2 linked regions of the Homo sapiens genome follow. The protein of the gene in region 1 binds, or shares a complex with, the protein of each later gene. Each region holds a gene or a part of one and is shown in the gene's direction. Other genes may lie near its edges.

Region 1 (3,653 bases):
GGAGAGGTAGGAAATTAGAGCCAGGAGGAATGTTTGACGTTACGTCATTAATCTCAGACATCTTGTAGATTAGGAAAAGTGACTTGGTCGAGGTCATACACCTATATAGTGACAAGTAAGAAGCTAGAGGAGTGCCGAGCGCAGTGGCTCATGCCTGTAATCCCAGCACTTTGGGAGGCTGAGGCGGGCGGATCACTTGAGGTCAGGAGTTCAAGACCAGTGTGGCTAACATAGTGAAACCCCCGTCTCTACTAAAAATAACAAAAATTAGCTGAGTGTGGTGGCAGGCGCCTGTAATCCCAGCTACTTGGGAAGCTGAGGCAGGAGAATCAGTTAAACCTGGGAGGCAGAGGCTACAGTGAGCTGAGATCCCACCATTGCACTCTAGCCTGGGCAACAGAGTGAGACTCCAACTCAAAAAAAAAAAAAAAAAAAAAGCCTGGGTGTGGTGGCTCACACCTGTAATCCCAGCACTTTGGGAGGGCAAGGTGGGCAGATCACCTGATGTCAGGAGTTCAAGACCAGCCTGGCCAACATGACAAAACCCCGTCTCTACAAAAATTAGCCAGGTTTGATGGCAGGTGCCTGTTATTCAAGCCACTCACCTGTAATTCAAGCCACTTGGGAGGCTGAGGTTGGAGAATCACTTGAACCCAGGAGGCAGAGGTTGCAGTGAGCCAAGATCGCGCCATTGCACTCCAGTCTGGGCAACAGAGTGGTACCCCGTCTCAAAAAAAAAAAAAAAAAAAAAAGGGCCAGGTGTGGTGGCTCATGCCTGTAATCCCAGCACTTTGGGAGGCCAAGGCGGGTGGATCACAAGGTCAGGAGTTCGAGACCAGTCTGGCCAATGTGGTGAAACCCTGTTTCTACTAAATATACAAAAATTAGCCTGGTGTGGTGGCACGCGCCTGTAATCCCAGCTACCTGGGAGGCTGAGGCAGGAGAATCGCTGGAACCCAGGAGGCGGAGGTTGCAGTGAGCCGAGATAGCACCACTGCACTCCAGCCTGAGCAACAGAGCGAGACTCCATCTCAAAAAAAAAGAAGTTAGAAGAGTCAGTCATTCTCATAAAAAAGCCTGCATAATTTGTTGTTGTTTTTTTTTTAAGACAATCTTGTTCTGTCGTTTAGGCTGGAATGCGGTGGTATGATCTCAGCCCACTACAGCCTCTGCCTGCCAGGCTCAAGCAATCATCCTGCCTCAGTCTCCCAAGTAGCTGGGACTACCAGCATGTGCCACCACTCCCAGCTAATTTTTCCTTTTTTTTGTATAGATGGGTTTTCACCATGTTGCCCAGGCTGGTCTTGAATTCCTGAGCTCAAGTGATCCACCCACCTCAGCCTCCCAAAGTGCTGGGATTACAGGTGTGAGTTATAGTGCCTGGCCCAACGCTTAATAACTTTTTCCTGAAATGCAGATTAGTTTGAAATGAATTTTATTTACGGGTTCATTTTTAATGTTTGAACCTGCTTCTAGGTAGGGTTAAAGTTGGGTGACTTGATGACTCACGAAATACACAACTATGAAGTTTGGAAAGTGTGGTGGTATGCACCTGTAGTCCCACCTGCTCTGGAGGCTAAAGTGAGAGGATCACTTGAGCCTAGGAGGTAAAGGCTGCAGTGAGCCGTGGCTGTGCCACTGCACTCCAGTATGGACAGCAGAGCAAGACCCTGTATCAAAAAACAAATAAAAACAATAATAATTTTTTTTAATTAAAGGAGAAAAGTTTGGGAAGTTTGACTTACATATTTGATCCTCGAATAGGGAGTTATTTTGGTTTTGGCATTAGATAGTTTTGTAGCTTGGTTCATGGCACTTGAGCAGCAAATTCATGGCCCTTACACTGAATACTAAAATGTTATACAGGCCAGCCAGTGAAGCTAGTTGTAAGTGCAGAGATTCATAAACAGAGTCGTCCCGTGATTTGTCCGTGTCTCCCCGTATTAACATTTTACTCTTACTTGGCGAAGGGAGTTGGGCTTCCTGAGCATGGTCTCCGTGTTGAGGTGGCTTTTCCTTCTTTCCCTGCTTCTGTCACCAGCTATGTGGATTACCCCATCTATGACGTGCTTCAGATGGTGGGCCACGCCAACCGCCCTTTGCAGGACGATGAGGGGCGCTGTGTCATCATGTGTCAGGGCTCCAAGAAGGTCAGTCCTAGACTCATGGAGCCTCTTGGATCCGTAGCCTCAGAATGGATTCTTTAATCTTTCTTTTGATAGATGTCTTCAGTAACTTTAGTCTCTTAACTTCTGCCTCTCTTATTTACACAATTCTTTTGTGACGAGCCTGCCACCCACATGGAATTTTGCTGCCTTTTGCTTTTGCTGCTGCCGTTGGCTCCACGTGTTGAGGTCTTCACCCTCTACTTGGTTCTCTCCTTCCTCCTTGGGCTGCTCACTGCTCTGCCCTCGTGACTTGCTGTACCTCTGTTCCCACTGCGTATTGTCACCAGTGATGCACTTTCTAAATGTGTGGCTTCTTCCATTTTGGTATTAGTTAGGTCTCACACAGGGACCATGCCCTGTTGATTTGCCCTTGGCCCTCTGTGACCGTGTTGTCACTAATTCTTTATTACTCCTTCTCCCTCTCCAACCCACAGGATTTCTTCAAGAAGTTCTTATATGAGCCATTGCCAGTAGAATCTCACCTGGACCACTGTATGCATGACCACTTCAATGCTGAGATCGTCACCAAGACCATTGAGAACAAGCAGGATGCTGTGGACTACCTCACCTGGACCTTTCTGTACCGCCGCATGACACAGAACCCCAATTACTACAACCTGCAGGGTCAGTGGGCTTGGGAGCACACGTGATCCTTTGGTGGTTCTCACAGTCTTTGCTGGGCATCTTCTTGAGGCTCCCCACTCACCTCTCGCCTCCATAGGCATCTCCCATCGTCACTTGTCGGACCACTTGTCAGAGCTGGTGGAGCAGACCCTGAGTGACCTGGAGCAGTCCAAGTGCATCAGCATCGAGGACGAGATGGACGTGGCGCCTCTGAACCTAGGCATGATCGCCGCCTACTATTACATCAACTACACCACCATTGGTGAGGCCCGGCATGGCCCGTGTCCTGTCTGTGGGAGCCTTTTTACACGGGTCAGGAGCCCACTGGGATGAGAGGTGCGCCCGTGTTTGTCAGCGGGATGACACTGCAGGGGACAGCAGGGGAGCCCGGGCAGTTCTGCTCCTTCTCTGCCTGGTTTTAGCTTCTCTCACATTTCCTTTTTCTGTCAGAGCTCTTCAGCATGTCCCTCAATGCCAAGACCAAGGTGCGAGGGCTTATCGAGATCATCTCCAATGCAGCAGAGTATGAGAACATTCCCATCCGGCACCATGAAGACAATCTCCTGAGGCAGGTGAGGACAGCAGACTTCAGGAGAGCATCCTGGGAACAACAAACTCGGCCTGTGTGCCCAGAGCACATGGCATCCCTGCCACCAACACGCCCATACGCATCCCCCGACCCCCGCCATATGTCCTCCCGCTCCATACCTCCCTCAAACCCATCTCCATCCCATTACCACCCACATGCCTCAGGGTGTTGAAGGGCTGTGTGAGCCTGGGCCACGTGGTGCTTTGGCCTGAGCTGGTCTCAGGCAGGGTCACCTGTTCATCACCAGCTATTTTTCTTCCACTTTGTAGTTG
Region 2 (3,653 bases), about 84 Mb from region 1:
AGAAGAAAAAAAGAAGTTAACTCTCCTTCCCAGTGATTGCACATTGTTGAATGACCTACAGTGGCTTGTACCTGAGACCACCCAAAAGACAACACAGTGATGCATTTTGTATTTCAGATGCCCATGCCTTAACTTGAATAATATTTTCAATTTATTGTCCACTTGTATTTAAATGGAATTTTGTACTACTCATCATATCCCTAACTTGGTCATGGTTTGTTCATGGTGCCTGGAGCTAGTCCGAGAAAGAAGTGGCTATTGGTAATACATTCATGCATCCCTCTTATAACTTTGAAGCCTCCCTTGTCGAATTTCCCTACTTTTCTGTTTATCTGAGCATGGGAGGGTGGTGGAACAATAAAGCCAGAGAGCATACTAGTTTCAGCAAACTCCCAGACTTAAACTTTTTCTCAGTATGTACATTTCCCAAGTGGACATTGGAAGAGACATTTGAATACCTACAACAAAGTACAAACTTTAAGCATGGATTATAGCTAGCCTTTATATAATAAAGTTAATAAGTCTTTCCTAGTGAACAGATACCAAAAACGGGGTATGGGCTGCCTTGGCCTTGGGACATATTAACTCCTGTGGAATGGGTTAGCTAGTGGGGAGGAGGAACTCGGTGACTCATGTTTAACCTGTCTTTCAGCCTAACTTATAAATGGGTGGAGCTAGACAGAGTTCAGCACTTCCACCTGAAAAGTTACCCTGTGAGTCCTTCCTGAAATAGTTTGTCAGGATAGCTTTATTTTAGACCTGGCTACAGGAGCCTCTGTAGTAGAATGCAGTGCTTGCATGTCTAGGGGCTAAATTTCTCTGTGGAGGCCAACACCTCCAAGTTTTCTTTAAACCAGAATGTGGTTTACTACGTGGCTCTCTAATTAAATAACCAGGTGACTTTCAAAGCTGTGCCTTGAAAATTGGCAGAATGTGTTCACCCATATACTTAATTAGGCAAGCTGAGGAACAGATTTGGGACAGGAGAGAGTGGTTTGAATGTGTGATGAAGGCATATGGCATATTCAGTAATTAGGGTTGATTTTGTAAGTTAAAAGAACTGCACCTTCAGGGACAGATTTCCTTTTGCAGTGCCTGCAAAGGAACTAGTATTTTTTTCATCTCACTCAATGAGGAAGTGTTTTCAAGCTGTTCCACAGGTTAACATGGAGTGAAGACTAATAGGGGGTGGCATCTGATAGTGTTGTCTTGATGTACTAAGACTTGGAAATCTTAGTATTTCCAAGAAGTAGGAGTTAATAGGTGAGACAACGCTGCTGTTGTATTCCTTGATGAACAAGTTGACAAAATGGCATTATAGGAAGTTCTATGTAGGCAGAAATTGGAGTAATCAGCAGAAATCTACACTCCCCGTTTTTTATTTAATTTTAGACTTGGAACTTATTAAGTAGCAGACACTGTCCTAGGTTCTGGATATGTAGCAGTGACCAAGAACCTTGAGGATCCAGTGTACTCATACAGAGCCTTTCATAGTTTAGCTTAATGAGTCTCTCATGTTCCATCTTATTCATGTTCAGTTTTTCATGTACACCTTGGAATCCCCAAATTCTCTGTCTCTGAGTCTTTACACATGCTTATCGTATTTCCTGAATGACCTTTTCCCCTTTCGATATGGATAATTCCTACTTGTTCTTTAAGACTCAGCTTCAAGACCTACTTCTTTCTGTATGTCCCAAACCCTCTTTTCCAGTAACACTTGTTTATGACATTGTTGTAGCACTTAGACATTTCTTCTTTACCCAAGGACAGAGTCCTCAATGCCTTGTCTGTTGTGTAATGTATATATCTCCCCACCGTACATAGACACTGCCTTTAGTAAAGACCATGACTGTACTTTTTCTCTTAGCTTCATACTTCCTCATTTTCTCTGTAAGCATTTTTCTTTTTTCATCTTCTTTTACTATTGTTTTGAGATGGGATCTCACTATGTTGCCCAGGCTGGGACTCTAGGCACATGCCACTGCACCCAGCTTTTCTCAGCCACTGAATATAAATATCAATTATGGCCCTAGCCTAAATGGAACCTTCCCCCAGCCTCCTATATACAGTGACAGAATGAGGGGGAAACATGGGCAGATTTGGTAGAATCAGTAGGATTTGGTGACTTACAGGGAGTAAGGAAAAGGAAATTGCCACCTGGGAAGCTTTGTAAGTCATATCTTAGAAGAAGAGCTGGTTTAAGATGGGGAGAAGGAAATAATTAGTTCCACTGTGGATTTCTTTAGTTCAGATGGCCTTTGGCACATCCACTTAGAGGTTTCCTGTAGCAAATTGGACATCATGATTTGGAACTCTAGAGAAGATTGGCTGGAGTAAAAAGTTGTTTTCGCATGTTAATTAAAGCTATGGGGATGGAGATGATCTTCCACAGATAATATGGAGAAAGAAAAGATAAGGACTATTCATTCATCCATTTAACAAATATGTATTGAGAGCCTCTAGTGTTGGGAATGTAGCAATGAACAAAACATAAATTCATGAGCAAATACTAAACTCTCAGGCATAGTAAATATTAAAGGGATGGACAAATGAAGGTGGTGTCCCTGTAAGTTGACAAGTGAGAACTTCAAGAAGGGGATTAGGTGCCAAATGCTAGAGCAATGTCCCATAAAAGAAGGAAGCTGCCCCTGGATTTAGCAACAAGAAAAAAAGTTACTGTGTAACATTGGTAAGTGCTGTGGAGTAGTGGGAAGGGAAAGCTGAATTACAGTGGGTAGGAGAGGTTAAGAATTAGAGACATCAGGCTGGACATGGTGGCTCACTCCTGGAATCCCAGCACTTTGGGAGGCCCAGGTGGGCAGATCACTTGAGGTCAGGAGTTTGAGACCAGCCTGGCCAACATGGCGAAACCCCATCTCTACTAAAAATACACAAAATTAGCTGGGCATGGTGGTGCGCACCTGTAATCCCAGCTATTCAGGAGGAGGCTGAGGCATGAGAATCACTTGAACCTGGGTGGTGGAGGCTGTGATGAGCTGAGATCATGCCACTGCGCTCCAGCCTGGGTGACAGTCAGACTCTGTCTCAAGAAAAAAAAAAAAGAAAAAAAAATTAGAGGCATCAAGTGTGAACTTACATATCACAAAATAGCTGTGTAGGGATGAGACAGTAAAACTAGAGAGGGGACAGGATAAAGGGAATTTGCCCCATAAATATCATAATTTATTTTTAAATGAATCATTAAAAAGTTCAACATGTAGAATTTTTCTTTAAAACCAACTTAAATAGAAATCAATACTGTACTGTAAATCAAGAGACAGCTTATTGAAATGTTGAAACTAACAAAAATAGACAAATTTCTATTCTCATAGATCCTGCATTCTGTTGAAAAGAAGCACATTGGGGAATCTTCCTATGCGTAAAAAAATTAATAGTATTTCCAAATGATTGGATCACTTAACTCTTTATTTGGTTACTTAAACAGCCTAAAATAGACTAGCTTCATGATACAGGAAATGAATGGGGGTAATACTACCTCCCAATTTATAATGTGAGGTTTTCAGTATAGATAATGGTGTCACTGGGTTCATTAAAATGTCTTTTTTTTTTTTCACTCCTCTGTGTCTTACTGTCTTAAAGTGTCTGAAAATTTGGGCTGTCTACTCTCCACACAGAGTTGCAGACCAGTCAAA

Evidence for each region. Proteins that work in one complex are often made in the same cells at the same time.
Region 2: SNRNP200 (region 1) and CWC22 share a complex: the UniProt entries of both Homo sapiens proteins name them as parts of the minor spliceosome.

The regions. Positions count from the first base shown.
Region 1 is NC_000002.12:96,277,948-96,281,600, reverse strand, and holds part of SNRNP200 (U5 small nuclear ribonucleoprotein 200 kDa helicase), read left to right. Parts: intron 1-2,041; coding exon 2,042-2,150; intron 2,151-2,602; coding exon 2,603-2,792; intron 2,793-2,889; coding exon 2,890-3,054; intron 3,055-3,242; coding exon 3,243-3,364; intron 3,365-3,650; coding exon 3,651-3,653. UniProt on the Homo sapiens protein: Catalyzes the ATP-dependent unwinding of U4/U6 RNA duplices, an essential step in the assembly of a catalytically active spliceosome. Plays a role in pre-mRNA splicing as a core component of precatalytic, catalytic and postcatalytic spliceosomal complexes.
Region 2 is NC_000002.12:180,000,740-180,004,392, reverse strand, and holds part of CWC22 (pre-mRNA-splicing factor CWC22 homolog), read left to right. Parts: intron 1-3,653. UniProt on the Homo sapiens protein: Required for pre-mRNA splicing as component of the spliceosome. As a component of the minor spliceosome, involved in the splicing of U12-type introns in pre-mRNAs. Promotes exon-junction complex (EJC) assembly.